Regions from separate parts of the Homo sapiens genome. Here region 2 is linked to region 1. The links come from fine-mapping of genetic effects on gene expression. A gene starts in region 1. The other region holds a variant in brackets. All regions are shown on one strand. Distances are between the middles of the regions. Region 1 holds the start of CATSPERQ (catsper channel auxiliary subunit theta). Region 2 overlaps BOP1 (BOP1 ribosomal biogenesis factor).

Region 1 (8,287 bases):
CGGCCCCAGGGGAGGAGGCCGAAGGAGCGAGTGGAGCCCTCCTCTCCAGGGAGAGGCGGGGCTGGAGTCAACGCCACCACCACCCCAAGCCGGACGCCGGGAAAGGGCGCCTACCAGGAGGAGCCACGCACACCCCAGGGCTTCACGGTGCCCGCGACCGCAAGAGCCAAGTCAGATCCCAGGGGAGTGGCCGGGACGGCTCTGCTCGGAGGGGCGCCGCCCTCTCGGTACCGTCAGGTGGGCGACTCGGGAGCCGTCCGGTCCCTGCGCCTCCCGGTCCCGCGCCCAGTGCGCTCCCGCTCCAGTGCCGGCTTCCCGCCACGCCGGGACACCGCCGTCCGGCCCAGGGACGCCACCTCAGTCCGGAGCGCGCAGGACCCGGCAGCAGCCACGACCCGACTCACCCGTGGCGGTTCCGGGCCCGCCCCCGGCATGGCCCACGACCGGAAGTCCCGCCCCGGAAGCTGGTCGGCGGGCGGGCGGGCGTTGAGAGGAACCGGGGGGTTGTCGGTCTATAAGCCTCGCCCGTTCCGCTCCCTGGGGCTTCCCCGAGCGCCGTCGGTGGTCATGGCTGCCCCAGCCTCCCGGCAGGTCCGACGCAGAGCCCGGGCAGCGCCGCGGCCCCGCTCGGCCGAGGACTGGTGGTGGGACCGGCTGGCGCCGAGGGGCTCGGGGTACCACCTGCTGCAGTCCGACAGCATGCTGCTGGTGCTGTCCGAACCCGGCCCCGCCCGGCCCCGCGCACAGCGGCGCGCTTCCCGCCGCACTCCCCGGCAGCCGCCCCGGGGCCCCAGCGCCGCGGCCAAGCCCAAGGCCGGGCTCAGGTCCGAGGCGGCGGCCGCGCCCGCACCCGCACCGGCACCCACGCCCACGCCCGAGGAAGGGCCCGACGCGGGCTGGGGAGACCGCATTCCCTTGGAAATCCTGGTGCAGATTTTCGGGTTGTTGGTGGCGGCGGACGGCCCCATGCCCTTCCTGGGCAGGTAACGCTGGTGCCGGGCCCGCCGCCGAGCGTAGCGGCTTGGGCCAGACGTGGTCCGAGCGGTGGCCCGGGCGGGGGCGGAGGGCGAAAGCATCGGAGCGCGCACCGCTCAGTCCGAGAGCGCAGCCCCTTAGGCGCCCAGTTGGAGTCCCAGGAGCCCGGCTTTGAGCCGGGGTGTCTACTGCGCTGCGAGAGGGGGGCATCGCCTACGGAGGGGCCGGCACCCTCAGCACGCTGTCCTCCCAGGGCTGCGCGCGTGTGCCGCCGCTGGCAGGAGGCCGCTTCCCAACCCGCGCTCTGGCACACCGTGACCCTGTCGTCCCCGCTGGTCGGCCGGCCTGCCAAGGGCGGGGTCAAGGCGGAGAAGAAGCTCCTTGCTTCCCTGGAGTGGCTTATGCCCAATCGGTGAGGGGTTCCCTCTCTTCCTTACCCCTGGCTCCAGGCTCCTTCCGTCTCCCTGCACCAAGGTGTTGGGTGGGAAGGACTCGTGTGGGAACATTAGTGCAGCTCTGCCTCCGCTGTCGGCCCAGGTTTTCACAGCTCCAGAGGCTGACCCTCATCCACTGGAAGTCTCAGGTACACCCCGTGTTGAAGGTGAGAGCTCCAGGCTGTCCTGCACATCAGCTGTGACACTCTGGGACTGTTCAGTACTCTAGGAAGTGGGTCAGGCACCTTGGGGGCCCAACGCTGCTCCGTGGGGATGTCTGCCTGCCTGCCTGGTTCTCTTTTCCTGCTGTTTCCTCCAGCAGGGAGGTATCAGAGGCGGGGACACCCAAGTAGGCCTGGCATGGGCAGAAAGGAGGTCACAGCTAAGGCGGTAGAGTGGGGTTGGCACCAGCCACTTGTCTGTTTCCCTTGTGGATCTTAGCCTGTCGTCTCCCAACCCCAGCTGCCCCTCTGTCTCCCCGCAGCTGGTAGGTGAGTGCTGTCCTCGGCTCACTTTCCTCAAGCTCTCCGGCTGCCACGGTGTGACTGCTGACGCTCTGGTCATGCTAGCCAAAGCCTGCTGCCAGCTCCATAGCCTGGACCTACAGCACTCCATGGTGAGCCCTGTGTCCCAAGGGGCCCTGAAAAAACCCAGGCCGGGGTGACGGGTGCTCTTGTATTGGGGCCCCAGGTGGAGTCCACAGCTGTGGTGAGCTTCTTGGAGGAGGCAGGGTCCCGAATGCGCAAGTTGTGGCTGACCTACAGCTCCCAGACGACAGCCATCCTGGGCGCACTGCTGGTAAGTTGGCATTGGTGGGAGCAGAGGCAGATGCTGAGCTGGGGACTGCCAGGCCACTGACCCTGTGACCTACCCCCTCCCCCCATCTCTGCAGGGCAGCTGCTGCCCCCAGCTCCAGGTCCTGGAGGTGAGCACCGGCATCAACCGTAATAGCATTCCCCTTCAGCTGCCTGTCGAGGCTCTGCAGAAAGGCTGCCCTCAGCTCCAGGTACCTGGCGCCCTGCCTCTCCCACCTGTCACACCCTCCCCCATCTACAGCCTGGACCTTGCCCCCAGGTGCTGCGGCTGTTGAACCTGATGTGGCTGCCCAAGCCTCCGGGACGAGGGGTGGCTCCCGGACCAGGCTTCCCTAGCCTAGAGGAGCTCTGCCTGGCGAGCTCAACCTGCAACTTTGTGAGCAACGAGGTCCTGGGCCGCCTACTCCACGGCTCTCCCAACCTGCGCTTACTGGATCTTCGTGGCTGTGCGCGCATCACGCCGGCTGGCCTTCAGGATCTGCCATGTCGGGGTCAGCAGTCCTGGGTGGTGGCCGGGCGGGTGAGGTGTGGGGGCCCTTGTCACCTTGTAGCTTATGCTCACTCCTTTCACTGCAGAGCTGGAGCAGCTTCATCTGGGCCTGTATGGCACGTCAGACCGGCTGACTCTAGCCAAGGAGGGCAGCCCCTTTTTGACCCAGAAGTGGTGCCATACACTGCGAGAACTGGACTTGAGTGGCCAGGGGTTCAGTGAGAAGGACCTGGAGCAGGCCCTGGCTGCCTTCTTAAGCACCCCTGGGGGCTCACACCCAGCCCTGTGCTCTCTTAACCTCAGGGGCACCCGGGTCACACCAAGCACTGTCAGGTCAGCATCCCCTACCCCAGTCCCTGGAGCCAGTGTGGCTGTCACTGTGTCTGCCTGGGGCCTGGAAGTTGTGTCCTGCCTGGCCTGAGACCTCCAGGGGTCAGAGGGGCATGCATACTGTCCAAGCCCCTGCGTGGGGTGGGCCTGAGGACACCAGGGGAACTGGGCTTGGCCTTGGTGGCTATGGGTGGCAGAGCCAGGTGTCGAACACCAGCAGGCACAGCTCCCTAGCCTGGCCCAGCCCTTCTGAGGCAACAGCTCAACTTCCTGTGGTCTGCCCTCCCCACAGCTCTGTGATCAGCGGCTGCCCGGGCCTGCTCTACCTCAACCTGGAGTCCTGCCGCTGCCTTCCCCGGGGTCTGAAGCGGGCCTACCGGGGCCTGGAGGAAGTCCAGTGGTGTCTGGAGCAGCTGCTCACCAGCCCCTCACCCAGCTAGGCAGCCACAGACCTGGGACACCTCAGCCAGCTTGCCCACCCTCCACCTTTGCCCAATTTCAGATATTTGAGCATTTTGTTAAAATAAAACATTTTTAGGAGTTCTGTGTGTGTGGTCCTCAGGGTAGGGTTGGGCAACAGGTTATACCTGATGGAGCCACTGGGGCTACAGCCGGCCCAGAGCCTGTGTGTTGTGGGGTCAGGGTGGTCCCATGGGCTCTTGAGCCTGCAGGTGGCCATGCCTTTGCCTGCCCACTGCTGGGTCCAGTGTGTGTGTTCCGTCCTCGGGGACACTGGTGAGCTTGTCTGTGGTTGCATGTGGGTGGGGGGTGGGAGGGGGTGGGGCCCCGCCCAGCTGTGGGGCTCACTGAGTGGTCGCCGCCTGCAAATTTCTCTCCAGCTCAGGCCTAGGGTGTCCACCCATCCACCCTTCACATGGGGACTGTGAACAGGCCATACAGGGGGCCTCCAGTGGATGGACTGGCCAAGAAGTTAATGCCTACCGCAGGACCTCACCCTGGACTCCCTAAGAGGTGGTCAACAGAGCAGCCCCTTCTAGAACCTGCCCAGAACTTCTAGAACCCATCCGCGGTCCACCCTGGGCCGCTCCCTGGCCTCGCTGCCCTGTCAGTCGCCTGTGAGCTCCTGCTCCTTCCTGGGCCTGCAGCCCTGGAGAATTTGCTCACCGAGGTAGGAGTGCCGCTGTGGGCAGTGGGCGGCGGCAGCGGACGAGCGGCCAGGCTGACCACCTCTGCCTGACTCAGATGCCTAAGGGCCGGGCCGGCAGCCTGCCCACGACCTCCATCGGCTGGCGCTTCCAGCTCTGGTTCCTAGGACTCACCTGCCCGGAGCGCCACCTGGCCAGACGCCTCAAGAACAATAGCTTCTACCCATTCGTGCAGCAGGAGCCAAACGGTGCGCGCGAGGCTGGGCGGGGCGGGGCGGGGCGGGGCTGGGAAGGGCGGGGCGGGGGAGGAGGGAGACGGGCCCGAGGCCTGAATGGGGCGGAGCCAGGTGGGCAGAGGCAGGGCCAGGGCCCTGGGTGGGGCCGGCCGGTGCTCCTGGGGACGGAGAGGCCGCAGGCGAGACGTCGCCTCCGCGAGCCCTGCGCGGACCCAGCTAGTCCGGGCCAAGCCTTGGCACCGCCACCCCCGGCTGCGGGCAGGGCCGGGGCGTCCTCACGCGCCGCGCCACCCCCAGTCTTCGTGCTCGAATACTACCTGGACACACTGTGGAAGGGGATGCTGCTCTTCATCATCAGCGTGGTCCTGGTCAGCTTCAGCTCCCTGAGAGAGGTGTGAGCCCCTGGGCCCGACCCCCACCGCCCTCCTCCCCTGAGGGCCGGCCCCGCGCCGCTCAGACTCTCCGCGTGGCGCCCGCAGGTGCAGAAGCAAGAGACCTGGGTCTTCCTCGTGTACGGCGTGGGCGTGGGCCTGTGGCTCGTGATCTCGTCGCTGCCGCGGCGCCGCCTGGTGCTGAACCACACGCGCGGCGTGTACCACTTCTCCATCCAGGGCCGCACCGTGTGCCAGGGCCCCTTGCATCTGGTCTACGTGCGCCTGGCGCTCAGCTCCGATGGTAACGGGCCGGGAGGGTGCGCCAGGGACGGGGAGGCAGCTTGGGAGGTCGGAGGGGCGGCCAGGCTGGCTAAGTCCGCTCTCCCCGCAGCCCACGGAAGGTGCTTCTTCCACCTGGTCCTCGGCGGCCACAGGTTGGAGCCCCTGGTGCTGGTGCAGCTGTCGGAGCACTACGAGGTGGGTCCCGCCCAGACACGCGCCCTCCTCAGGACACGATGACACCGATCACTGTTTAAGGTCTTTGGGTGGGGCCGTTTCCGCACGCAGAGGGTAAATACAACACGGTCTTCGGTGCTGGGGGCCGTGGAGAGGGCGCCGGGGCTTCGGGCAGGACGGGGGATGCAGCCTGGTAGGGGAAGGAGACGCCTGGACGGCGACTCGGGTCTGTCCTGTCCCGGCCCCAGTTGAGCGCCACCTGCTCCCACAGCAAATGGAATACTTGGGCCGTTACATCGCCCGGAAACTCAACATCAACTACTTCGACTACCTGGCCACCTCCTACCGGCACGTGGTTCGCCACTGGCCACCCCCTGGCGCTGGCACTGTGATGGGCAAGAGCCCCATGGGTCACAAGCCCAGCTCCTCTCAGTCCAGCCTGGAGGTGTGACTCTGAGGGCCTCCCCCACCTCGGGACTGTGTTCTCGGTAACCTCCCAGCCCCACTCTGGGGCAGATCAAATGTGAGTCCCACTCACTGGCCTTCCTTTCAATAAAGCTGCCTCAGCTTCCACACGGATCATTTTAGGGGGCAGGGGAGGCCCTCTGGTGCCTAGGTCTTCCACTGTTGCGCACTCCTAGGACCTCAGAGAGCCTGTGCCTTCCAGCTGACTGAAGCAAACCCCACAGCTTGTGTTCGAAGACAGGAACAGCTGAGAGCAAGGGATGGCATATAGCCAGGCCTCTGAGGTTCGGCCCATCACTAGAGAGGCTGGGAACTCCATCCCCTCTTAGCCAGCAGCACTTAACTTGTCCTACCTGACCTCAGAGGTGCTGACCAATGCGTGGAATCCAGGAGTCAGAATCTGGCCCATTCTGGACCCGGTGCCTGCTGCTACTCCAACCAGCAATGGGGTGGGGTGCGGCCAGAGAACAAGCCCTGTGCCTGGGGTGCATGCTTGCCCCAGTACCCACAAAGCTGCTGCCGCTTGCCTCCAAGGGGGTGGGCACAAGAGTCCCGGGCCAGGGTGCAGGGCCTCCTAGGAGGGAGGATGTGCAGTGCCCTGACACCCGCTCGCCATGCCCGCTGGAACCCCAGGCCCGCGCCCCTGACACCCGCTCACCGTGCCCACTGGAACCCCAGGCCTGCGCCCCTGACACCCACTTGCTGTGCCTGCTGGAACCCCAGGCCCACACTCTCCTGTCCAGTGGATCCCCCAGCTATCACTGCAGCACCTGAGGCCTCCTGAGTGCTGGGGGCTGTTGTGGAAGCCGAGAAGGCTGTGGGCCATGGGGTCCCAGGGAAAGCAGGACCTGGCTCTCCGGATCTTCAGGCATTATCAGCTGAACGTCCCTGCAACCAGGAGCAGCTACATAATTTGCAGGGTCCCATGCCAAATGAAAATTTGGAGCCCATTGTTAGGAAGTTAATAAGTGGGGTGCAGTGGTGTATACCTGTAGTCTCGGCTGCTCAGGAGGCTAAGGTGGGAGGACAGCTTAAACCCAGGAGTTCAAGGCTAGCCTGGACAACATAGTGAGACCCCAGTCTCTAATAAAATAAACAATAAAAATAAAAATAAAGTTATTAAGAATTTCAAGATAGACTGGGCATGGTGGCTCACGCCTGTCATCCCAGCACTTTGGGAGGCCAAGGCGGGCGGATCATCTGAGGTCAGGAGTTCAAGACCAGCCCGACCAACATGGTGAAACCCTGTCTCTACTAAAAATATAAAATTAGCTGGGTGTGGTGGTGCATCCCTGCAATCTCAGCTACTCGGGAGGCTGAAGGAATAGAATCGCTTGAACCTGGGAGGCAGAGGTTGCGGGTGAGCGGAGATTGAGCCATTGCACTCCAGCCTGGGTGACAGAGTGAGACTCTGTCCCAAAACGACAACGACAACAACAACAGCAACAAAAACTCAAGTATGGGGCCTTTCTGAGCCTGGGGCCCTGTGTGACTGCCCAGGTTGCAGGCTCGTGAAGCCAGTTCTGCCTGGAACCATGACTTAGAGTCTCTACTTGACCCCCAATCCCAAGGCTGCTCAAAACTCACTGGGCACACAGGCACCCTGGCCCATCTCTGGGGCAGGATCTGGGGGCTACTGAAGTGGCTTTAGGTAATCCCTGGAAGCAATTGTCATTAACAGCACAAGTGCAGGGACCTCCACTCCCCAGAAGATGGGGCTCAAGGTGTCCTACAGTGGCAGCACCAAACTTAGGTTTGGGTTGAGGGCTCTGTTTCACTCAGGCAGGCAAAGTCCCTCCTCCCTGGAGCTGGTGATCTAAGAGGGACCCAGAATGAAGAGTGGTTGGAGGGGCAGGGTCCCTCTGGCTGGGGAGCTTTGGGGGAAGGGCATCGTGGGCAAAGAGTAAACACAACACAAGGGCGTGATATAGGACTGAGCTGGGTGTGCTGGAGAAGCTGCAAGGGGATTGGGCTGGTCAGAGTAGAGAGGACAAGGGAGAAGGAGGCCTGAGATGAGGTGGGAAGGGCAGGCAGCGTCCTTGGAGGCCATAGCTCAGAGCTTTAGTCCTGTGTGCCATGGGAATCTGCTGGAGAGCTGTAAGCAGATATGCACTAAGACCCAGGGAGGGAGCGGTGGGGAAAGGCCAGGAGGCTGCAGGAATTGTGCACGGAGGAAAGGGAGCTGGAGGGGCAGAGGGGAACAGAGAGGAGCAAGGACCACAGACAGTTCTGAGCTCCGGCTCCGTGGAGGGGATTTGCTGCTGGGCGGGAAGTGGGCTGGGAAGAAAAGTGACTCGGGAGTCCAGAGTGTCTGGCCTGGGCACTGGGGCTGGTGGCTATGGGGAGAGGGGTTGGCAGTCAGGAGTTCTGAATTAGACAAGGCCTGAGGAGCTTACAGGACCTTGTGGGGGAGATTTTGAAAAGGCAGAAAGGCCCTGGGGAGAAAGGAAAGGGGGAAGCACAGACCTGAAACCATCATGCCCTGGGAGGTCCCTAAAGCTAAAGCACTAGATGAGATGTCTCTGGCAACGCAGAAGATGGGGGAGAACAGGAGGAGGGCCAAGGATGGAGCTCTGGCATCAGACACAGAGGCAGACAAGGGGCCA
Region 2 (8,310 bases), 84 kb after region 1:
GCTTTGCCAGGCCTGTCCAGTGCCACCGCCGCCTGCCGGGTGGGCAGCCCCCTGCTGTGCTGGGAGGAAGCCGGCCAGGGATGTGGGGGCTGCTTCCTCCAGTGATGACTATCCCATATGTTGGTCTGAGTGACAGCGAGGGAGCCCGGGTGCTGCCCGGTGCTCCTGCCAGCACAGCCGGCCAGTGGCTCGAGGGGGCGGCAGAGCTCAGCTTTCAGGAGCCAGGCCAGGCCCGGACAGATGCCTCCCGTCCAGAGAAGTGCGCATCTGCCTGGGCCTCTGTTCCCTTGGAGCAAAGTGGGGTGGCCCTAGGGGAGTGATTTGGGGCCACAGGTGGGCAGGAAAGAGGCTTGGGAGGTGGGAGACAGCCTGCAGCTCTCCCATGAGACAGTGGGGTGAGGAGAGCAGGGCCCGTCAGGCAGCCCCGTGTCCTTGGAGGTGGCCGTGGCACCAGGACCATGGTCCTCCTCGGCACTGGGCAGAGCTGGCTGAGAGAGGGCCGACCTCACTGCCGGGGCCCTTCAGGGCTGTGGAGAGGGCCCCTGGTAGCAGGGCAGGGAGGGCGCCGCTGGGGCGTGTGCTCCTGCGAGCGGCGATCTCAGCTGGAGCGCGTGGGTGGCAGTGGCTGTGATGCTGAGAAGGTCTCGGGCCAAGCTCCTGCTGGTGGGAGGTGCCTCCCTGCCACCCCCTGCCCACCTACCTCCCCTTCTCCTCAGGCCACTTCCCTGCCCTTCCTGGGTCTGGATCCAGGGCCTGGACCTGGATGACACTGGGGCTTCAGGGACCCCCTGCTGGACGCTGACTTTTGAAGACCTGAGCAGCCCCTCACAGGAGAGCTGTACTCCAGCTCTTGGTGTCTTATTCCCCTCCCCCAGGTGCGCAGGCAGCAGCGAGCAGGCGGAGGGAGGCGGGCGGAGCCCCTGGAGGAGGCGCTGGGCCTGGCTGGGGTCCTGCCGCCGGCAGTGGGGGGCCCCCAGGAGCCGGCTGAGCTGCGGCTGCCCCGCCCCCGCATGGCCACCTCACCCCTCTCCCACCGCGCCTGGAGCTTCACAGACGTGATCTCATCCAGCCGCTGGGACCCCCGGGGAGGTGGGCCGGGGTGGAGGGGCGGGGCAAGGGGGCTCTCGGCCTTTGCCGAAGCAGCCCCTCCGCTTTGATTTGAGCGGTTGGGAGAAACTGAGGCCGGGTGGCTGCTCAGGCAGAGGATGCAGCCACCCACCCTCCCCCTGCCTGTGGCCGTGTTTGTCAGGAAAGCGTAGCAGGCTGAGGGATCTGGGTGGCCGTCCACTCTGGCCGGAGGAGCCGCCCTCTGCTGTCCCTTTCCTGTGCCCCGTGGTGCTGGCCTGGGGCCGTCCCCCACGAGGCCTCCACTGGAGTCTGGAGTCTGGGGCTGGGGTGCAGCCTGGCAGCTCCTCGGTGCCCCTGACCCTGCCTGGGCTGTGAGTCAGGTTCCCGCAGGGATGCAGCCGGGCCTGTCTGCGTCCAGAGCCCGTGGTCCCCTCTGCTCTCGCGCCAAGCGCCGTTAATGGCTTCTCCCAGCTACTGAACCGGCAGCTGCCTCCAGTGCTGGCGGCCTCCGCTCCTCCGGGCCGCCCCCGCCCCCGCGTCCTGGCCCCGCGCACTCAGGCTTGCGTCGCTGCTGGCGGCGCGGCCTCGGCTCAGGTTTCCCGGCGAGCGAACGGCCCTCCCCACGCTGCTTGTGGAGGGCGCCCGGGCCTGCAGACCGCCCCAATCTCCCTGGCGGCCATCCACCCCCGCGGCCGCCTGCATGCCTGCCTCCGAGGGGGCTGCTGACTGGGCTGGGGCTGGCCCTCGGGTCTGGTCCCTTTCCACTGAGGAGGGAAACGGGCGCGCCCTGCTACCCAGGCTGTGGGTGGGTGTGTGTAGCCTGACTGCCGCGTGCCCCTTGGCCGGCTTGAAGGCCCTCCTAGGCCTGGCCTGCTGCACTCAGTTGTCCGGTTTGGGAGAGGAGAGACCCTGGGGTCAGTGATGAGGGGCAGGGAAGCCAGGGCCCTCATGGGGGTACCCTGGGCTCTCGGATGAAGCAGGGCTGGGCAGTGGCTGGTAGGTGGGAGTGGCCTCTTCAGAGCCGCGTCCTCCTGCTTGTGGGCTGCAAGGGTGGTGGGGGCCCTGGCCTGCTGTGCCCACTCGGGGCCAGTGTCCTTGGCAGCTGGAACCCGGGTGGGCAGCGGGGGGTGCTCTACAGGGCTCTTGAGCGGAGGCTTTGCCCTGGGGCTGGCAGAGCAGCCTGTGGAGTGGAGCCGGGGAAGGCATTGGAGGGCAAGGTCTGTTGGGCAGGTGGTGACGGCTGCAGGCTCTGGGCCCTCTGGGGAGGCCGGCTGGGGAGAGCTGGGTCTGGGTGTACGTCCCAAGGCCGGGGCTGTTCTGCAGGGGACGGGAGTCCCAGGTACGTGTGTGTGCACGGATCAGGACTGGGGGAAAAGTCTCCAGAATGAGATTTTGGAGGTGTCCGGAGTTGGGGGCTGAGCGGGTGTGGACCTCTAGAGCCCTGTCCCCACCCCACCTGGAAGTTGTAGCTCTGAGTTGTGGGGCTCAGAGCAGGCCGAGGAGGGGTGAGCACTGGTGGGTGTCGGTGGGGGGTGTTTGGGGTGTCATGCCCCAAGCCTGTGCCCCACCCCTAGCATCCTGGTTTCTGGGAGCCCCTGCTTATGAGATGCCAGGCGTTGGGGTGCTCTGCCTGGGAACAGCTATTGTCCCTGGGTCAGCCCCAGCAGAGACCGAGGCAGGCCAGGTCTGGAGGAACCCCTGGGTCGGTAGTGGCTTCTCTCCAGCCTGCAGACCCCCAGGAGGTGACTTGCTGCCCTCCCAGCTGTGGAGGTGCAAGGACCCCTGGGTCAGTAGTGGCTTCTCTCCAGTGGTGGAGGTGCCGGGAGAAGGCCGAGCTGTGTGCCCAGCCTCTAGAAGGGCAGATGCGTGGTTGGCGGGAGCCGGGCCGGAGCTGAGGGCGTCTGGGCTGGTGGCTCCTCCTGCCTGGGGCCCCACCTTGGGCTGGGGGTTCGCTCAGCTGGTTTGGACTTTGAGGAGGAGGAGACTAAGCAGGACCTGGCTTTCTCCCCTCTGGCCCCGGCGCCAGGGCCCAGCACCCCTGCTGGAACCTTCAGTAGGGTGAGATGCAGCAGGTGAGCCTCCCGCCCTGGCCTTGCCCTGAGCACTTCAACAGATAAAACCCTGAGGAAGAGGAGGCGGCCTCACGTCGCACAGGAAGGCCGTGTGGCGCTCCGAGACAGGCGGGCGTTTTGTGCAGGGGAGCGGCGCGAACGCTGAACACTACCCGCATTGTAATCGGAGAGGGGCTGGGGAAGAGAGAGACGGAGCGAGGGCGGCTGACCCCACGCTCCCGGGGGACAGGTGGGAGAGGCGGAACGAGGAGAGAGTGAAGGATTCCAGAGGTGGGCCGGCTTCCTCTCTCGCAGACAGACACGGGAGGAGGCGGGCAGCGGGCCAGCCCCATACCTGCAGTTCCAATCTGTGGTCCTGACAGCTGCAGCCACTTTGGGGAGGGGGAGGGAAGGGGGCTCATCGAGAGCGGAAAAATCCCAGCCGACACATCAGCCGGTTGCGGCCTGTGTCCGGTGCAGTCTGGGCTGGGGGCCTGTCCTTGGGGCTGGGCGGCCCCCAGGAGAGCCCTGATGCTGGGTCTGTGTGTGCCCCCGGCCGGCCGGCCGGGGCTCTCCGTGCGGGGCCTGACCCGGAGGGGTCACATGTGTTTCCTGGCAGCCCGCAGGTGCTGCGCTGGGCGGGGCGGGTGGTGGGCGCAGGCGACCGTGATGAATCATGTGTCCCGCCAGCAGCTCGTTCCCCAGGCCGGGGACAGGAGCTGACAGCTGAGGCCCAGCAGAGCGTTTCCAGCCCAGCTCGGCTCGCAGGGGCGGCTGCTGGCCCAGGGTGCAGGCTGGGGCCCCTTCCGTCCCAGCTGCCTCTGTGGGGCACAGGCGGAGGGAGCCCTGGGTCTCTGTGGAGGTGAGGCCAGCACTCTGGGAAGGGAGCCAGGGGCTGTGGTGGGCAGGGAGCACCTGCCACTCGTCTGCCCGGCGGCTGTGAGCTACGAGTGGATTCGGGTGGGCTGCCGCAGGCCTGGGGGTCAGCCCACGCCACCCCCGGTCTGGTTTGAATTTCTGGAGCAGTGGAGGGTGACGGAGTGTTCCTCCCCCGCCCCTCCCCTCTTGCTGGCTGGCGGGCCGGGCCCTCGGCCGCTGCTACCGGTGCAGCTCAGGGAGCGGCTGGGCTGGCTGCCCAGGCCTGAGGCTGGCCAAGCTGCAGCCGCGGTCGGAGTCAGGCCCGCAGCGGAGGGCTTGGCTGTGAGTGCTGCACCCCAACCAGCAGGGCCCTGGGGATCCTTTCAGCTCCGAGGCCTCCAGGTCGTTGTTCCCTGTTCACTTTCTTCTAGCCTCGTTAGACACCCCAAACTCTGACCCCAGTCCACGGGGGCTCTGAC[G/A]TCTCTTTCCCCTGCACTCCCTCTTGACCCTGCCCAGACCTCCCCATGCTGGCCCGCACCTTCCCACCTGCTCCTGTCTGGCCTCCTGCATTCCCGCTCTGAGCTGGCTCTGCCCTGTCCTTGGTGCCGGCCGCCGACGCCCCGCACCTGCCCGCTCAGGCCAGCAGCCCCTGATGTCCCTGCCCTGGAGACTTTCACTATCTTCCATCCCATTTGTCCCCAACGTTGACCGGCCACTGAGGTTGGGGGTTCATGTGGAGGTTTGCAACCCCCACTAGGCCCAGGTCTGGAAATGGGAGGCCTGGAGGTGAGGGGTAGGTGGGCTATGGACCCTCCCTACAGAACTACACCCAGTGCCCAGTGGAGGGAGGGCTGGCGTGGGCGCCGTGGGCCTTAGGGTGCTATGCAGAGTGCCCGGCCTGGCCATGCTCCTGGGTCCACCCTGCTCCTCACTCACCAGCGCCTTGGTGCCTGGGAGGGTGGCGGGGCGGGGGTGTGAGGAAAGCTCCCAAGAAGGGAAGGGGCTGCGTCAGCCCCTAGCTGCATGTCCGTGTCCCCCGGGCCCTGGCTTCCCGGCGGGCGGAGGCTTCTGCAGTGACTGAGCTTGTCCTCTCCTCCCCTCCCTCTGGCCAGCTGTGGGCTCCTGCAGGATTAGGGAGAGGAAATTTGGGGTTGGGTTTCTCTCTGAACGAAACCTGCCGTTGTGACTTTTTATCCTGTTATATTTCTATCAGATTGGACTCAGCCCCCCTCTAGCCCTTAATGGCTCTGGCTTTGAGAATTTCCTCCAAAATTACACCACTGCTTCCTGCTCCGCCATTCCCTGGAGCCTGTCTTTGCAGAGGAGGGGCAGTCCTGGGCCAGCCCTGCACCGATGCCCACGTGGGCCACAGCACCTGGTCTCCCCCCGAGGGTGCGTCCCTGCCTGTGCTAGCGGGGAACTGGGGCCGGCCGCCGCCCTGACGCCCGCACCTGGCACCATCAGCCATTGTCCACCCAGCCGGAAGTTAGGCTGTGGCCTGGCAGGGTTGGGGGGAGGTGGTCCACACAGCACCGCCCTTCTTCTCTCTGTGCCCACTGATCTCACACCACTCAATGGTAATTGTCACCTGCAGGGTTTTAATGGCCAGCCAGCTGTGCACAGAGCACTGTGGGGGCTAAACCCACCTCCTGTGGTGGGCGGGGTCTTCAGGGGGCTGGATGGGCCGTGGTGGTGGGAGGAGGATGGCCAGGGGTCCTCCTTCCCACGTGGGCAGTGCTTCCAGGGGCCAAGTGGCACTGGTGCATGAGGAGATGCCCCTCTCTCCAGTCAAGGCTCGTGGAGGCAGGACACCCACTGCCCTCGCTGGGGCTGGGAGCCCCCCCCTCCGCTGGGCAGCACAGCTCGCTCCACTCCTTGTGGCCACCTGCAGCGCCCTCCTCACCCTCAGGGCCCCCGGGTGCCCGACAGGCCCGAGTCGGGGGCACCCTTGCCCTGCTGCTGCCTCTGTCCCTGCCGCTGCCTCCCTGTCCCTGCCTTACAGCGTCCCTGCCTTGTGCCTCGCCCTCCCCATCTTCTGCCACGCAGCTCCTCCCCCACCCTCTCTCCCGGCGTGGCTCCCTTGTCCCCACCCCACAGCTTCCCGATATGAGGCTCTGTGGGTGAGCTAAGCCCATCCTCACCGCCTCAGCCCAGGGAGGGGTGGCCCTGAGCCTGGAAAGTGGGGGCTTCCCAGGGAGCCGGGGTACTTGGCCCAAGGAGGATGGGACCACCAAGGGTGGGAATGGAGGCTCAGGCTGGGGGCTGGGGGTGGATTCTGAACCTTTCATGAGGACAGTTGGCCTCCATATTTGGAAGATACTGTTTTGTTTTTAATTATACAAAATTTTCAGACTTTATATTATCATATCAAAAACACAAGATGCCATCACACAGTGGCCGGAAGAAAAGCCAGCGCAGAAAGTTCCAGTGGGCCCGGGCAGGTGCTGGGGCCAGCGCAGAGTCCCGCTGCCGGCGCCTGTCTGTACGTCCGTCTGTCCCTCGGCCCCGCTCGCAGCCAGGGCTGGCCTGGGGGCATGCTTGCGGTGGGCCTTGCCCAGCTCAGGTCCAAGGTGGGGGCTGTCTGCAGTCACCCCGGGCGTCCACCTCCCCCAGCAGCGTCTGCCTCCTGGCTGCTGCCGGCCACCTCCTAACTGCGAATCGCTGTCTTTCTGTCGCGGTCCTTGCTCTGCAGAGGGGAGGGAGGAGTGTCAGGCCCCGGCAGAGCCCAGCGCCAGTCTGCGCCTCTCTGGCCTCCCTGCTGGGTGCCATCTCAGGTGGCCAGCGCCAAGGCACCTCCTTCCCGGCTCTCCCCAGCTTCCCTCAAGCGTTTTGGGGAGGGGAGCATACTGCTGCACAGCCGAAATTGTAAAATTAAATTTCCCAGATGTTCAGGCCCCAGGAGCTCGCGCGTGCTGTCTGGAGAGGAAATGGGGATTGGGAAAAGCCGTGCCGTATTTTCTCCCTGCTCACCCTGCTTTTCCGGTGCCACCAAGCACAGCAGGAGCTGTAAATCACAGCTGGCCAGCGTCTCCTGCAGGGGCCCTCACCCCCAGCCCCCACATCTCCTGCCAGCCTCTGCCTTCGTGTCCCATGGCCCACGTCTCGGGCAGCCCTACAGGACCTGGTGTCTTGGTGTGCGGCCTAGGTGGGGGACGGACAGCAGGTGCCCAAGATGGCTTAAGCCAGTGCTGGGCCGCAGGGGCTAAGAACCCGGGGTCCTTCCTCTCTTGCCTTGCAGCCTCTTACTTTCTGAACTCAGCTGTTTTCACTCCGCCTTTCAACTTACTGAAAAGGGAAGCTTGCAGCGGCCTGGTCCAGCTCCCCAGCCTCCCCGCCCTGGGTGGGCCCCTTTGGCCATCCCTAGCTCTTACCCCTCATGCAGCTCCCTGCAGGGGACTCCACACTCCACTGGGAGCCGAGTGTCCTAGGGACGCCCTGGAGAGGAGCCCCAGGAGAAGGCCCCAGCCCCCGGCAGGCCTGTGTTACAGGTGTGCCTGCCTGTGCCCTGTTGGGGAGCCCTGCCCGTGTGGCCTCGCCTCCTCTGCCTGGCAGGTGTGGGCTGAGGGGCGCGTTGGAGGCCCCCCTCGGCGCCCCACGGCCCGTGCTCACCAACTTTCTCTGGTTGCTGAGGCAGAAGGTGCAGATCTGTTTGGGCTGGGTGTTCTCGCCGTCGCGGGCGGGAGGCGGCGGGGGCGGCGGCGGGGGGCTGCCGGCGCGCGCCGCGTGGAAGAAGGCGGGCCCGGAGTGGCAGGGCTGTCCGTCGCCGCAGGCCTCGCCCGCCAGCAGCACGTTGCCCAGGTGCGAGATGTAGCTGGAGGCCAGGCGCAGCGTCTCAATCTTGGAGAGCTTGCGGTCGGCGGGCTCGGTGGGGATCAGCGTGCGCAGCGCCGTGAAGGCCGTGTTCACGCTGTTGGTGCGGTCTCGCTCGCGCGCGTTCGCCGTGTGCCGCTGCCGGGGCTCACGGCCTGGCCGGCCCCCTGGCCCCCCGCCCCCGGCCCGCCGGCCCCCCGCCCTCCGCCGGGCGCCCTGGAGGCCGCAGCGCGCCGCGTGCACGCGACAGGGTTTCTCGTCGGAGCCCGAGCTGTCGCTGCCGCGGTCCTCGTCCTCCGACAGCGGGCTCACCTCGGGGTACAGGTAGCGGCCCGGCGGCGCCGGGCGCAGCGTGGCGAAGGACATGGGGCCGGCGGGGGCGCGGCGTCAGCTCTGTCGCGCGCTGCTCATGCCGCCTCCTGCGGCCGCCGCGGGCCTCGCGGGCCGGCCGGGGCGAGGCGCGGGGTCTCGGCTGCGCCCCGCGGTGGCAGCTGCCGGGCGTCGCGCGCACATGTGCGTCCCG

The links. PIP is the estimated chance that this variant, and not a neighbour inherited with it, causes the effect.
Region 2: its variant is fine-mapped to the expression of CATSPERQ in T cells (TOPMed, PIP 0.98).

The regions. Positions count from the first base shown.
Region 1 is chr8:144,350,728-144,359,014 of GRCh38, reverse strand. CATSPERQ (catsper channel auxiliary subunit theta) reads left to right here and starts at 4,084. Exons shown (of 6, transcript NM_001280561.2): 1 at 4,084-4,173; 2 at 4,248-4,398; 3 at 4,684-4,778; 4 at 4,866-5,061; 5 at 5,152-5,237; 6 at 5,488-5,787. The coding sequence starts at 4,248. The coding sequence ends at 5,667. FBXL6 (F-box and leucine rich repeat protein 6) reads left to right here and starts at 543. Exons shown (of 9, transcript NM_012162.4): 1 at 543-983; 2 at 1,229-1,387; 3 at 1,513-1,576; 4 at 1,894-2,025; 5 at 2,100-2,207; 6 at 2,302-2,415; 7 at 2,484-2,715; 8 at 2,801-3,047; 9 at 3,337-3,584. The coding sequence starts at 568. The coding sequence ends at 3,484. It overlaps SLC52A2 (solute carrier family 52 member 2), which reads right to left and starts at 402. Exons shown (of 5, transcript NM_001363118.2): 1 at 1-402. RefSeq lists silencers at 141-580, 601-820, 4,534-4,643 and an enhancer at 2,151-2,687.
Region 2 is chr8:144,266,457-144,274,766 of GRCh38, reverse strand. The region is part of intron 3 of BOP1 (BOP1 ribosomal biogenesis factor); the gene reads left to right. SCX (scleraxis bHLH transcription factor) reads right to left here. Exons shown (of 2, transcript NM_001080514.3): 1 at 7,587-8,310; 2 at 6,286-6,663. The coding sequence starts at 8,153. The coding sequence ends at 6,625. Among named protein-coding and RNA genes, the nearest start is that of SCX, 4.2 kb to the right of the region's middle. RefSeq lists silencers at 1-22, 3,661-3,830, 8,191-8,310 and enhancers at 2,479-3,122, 3,123-3,766, 6,412-7,177, 7,178-7,945. The variant G/A (reference allele first, on the strand shown) is at 4,457.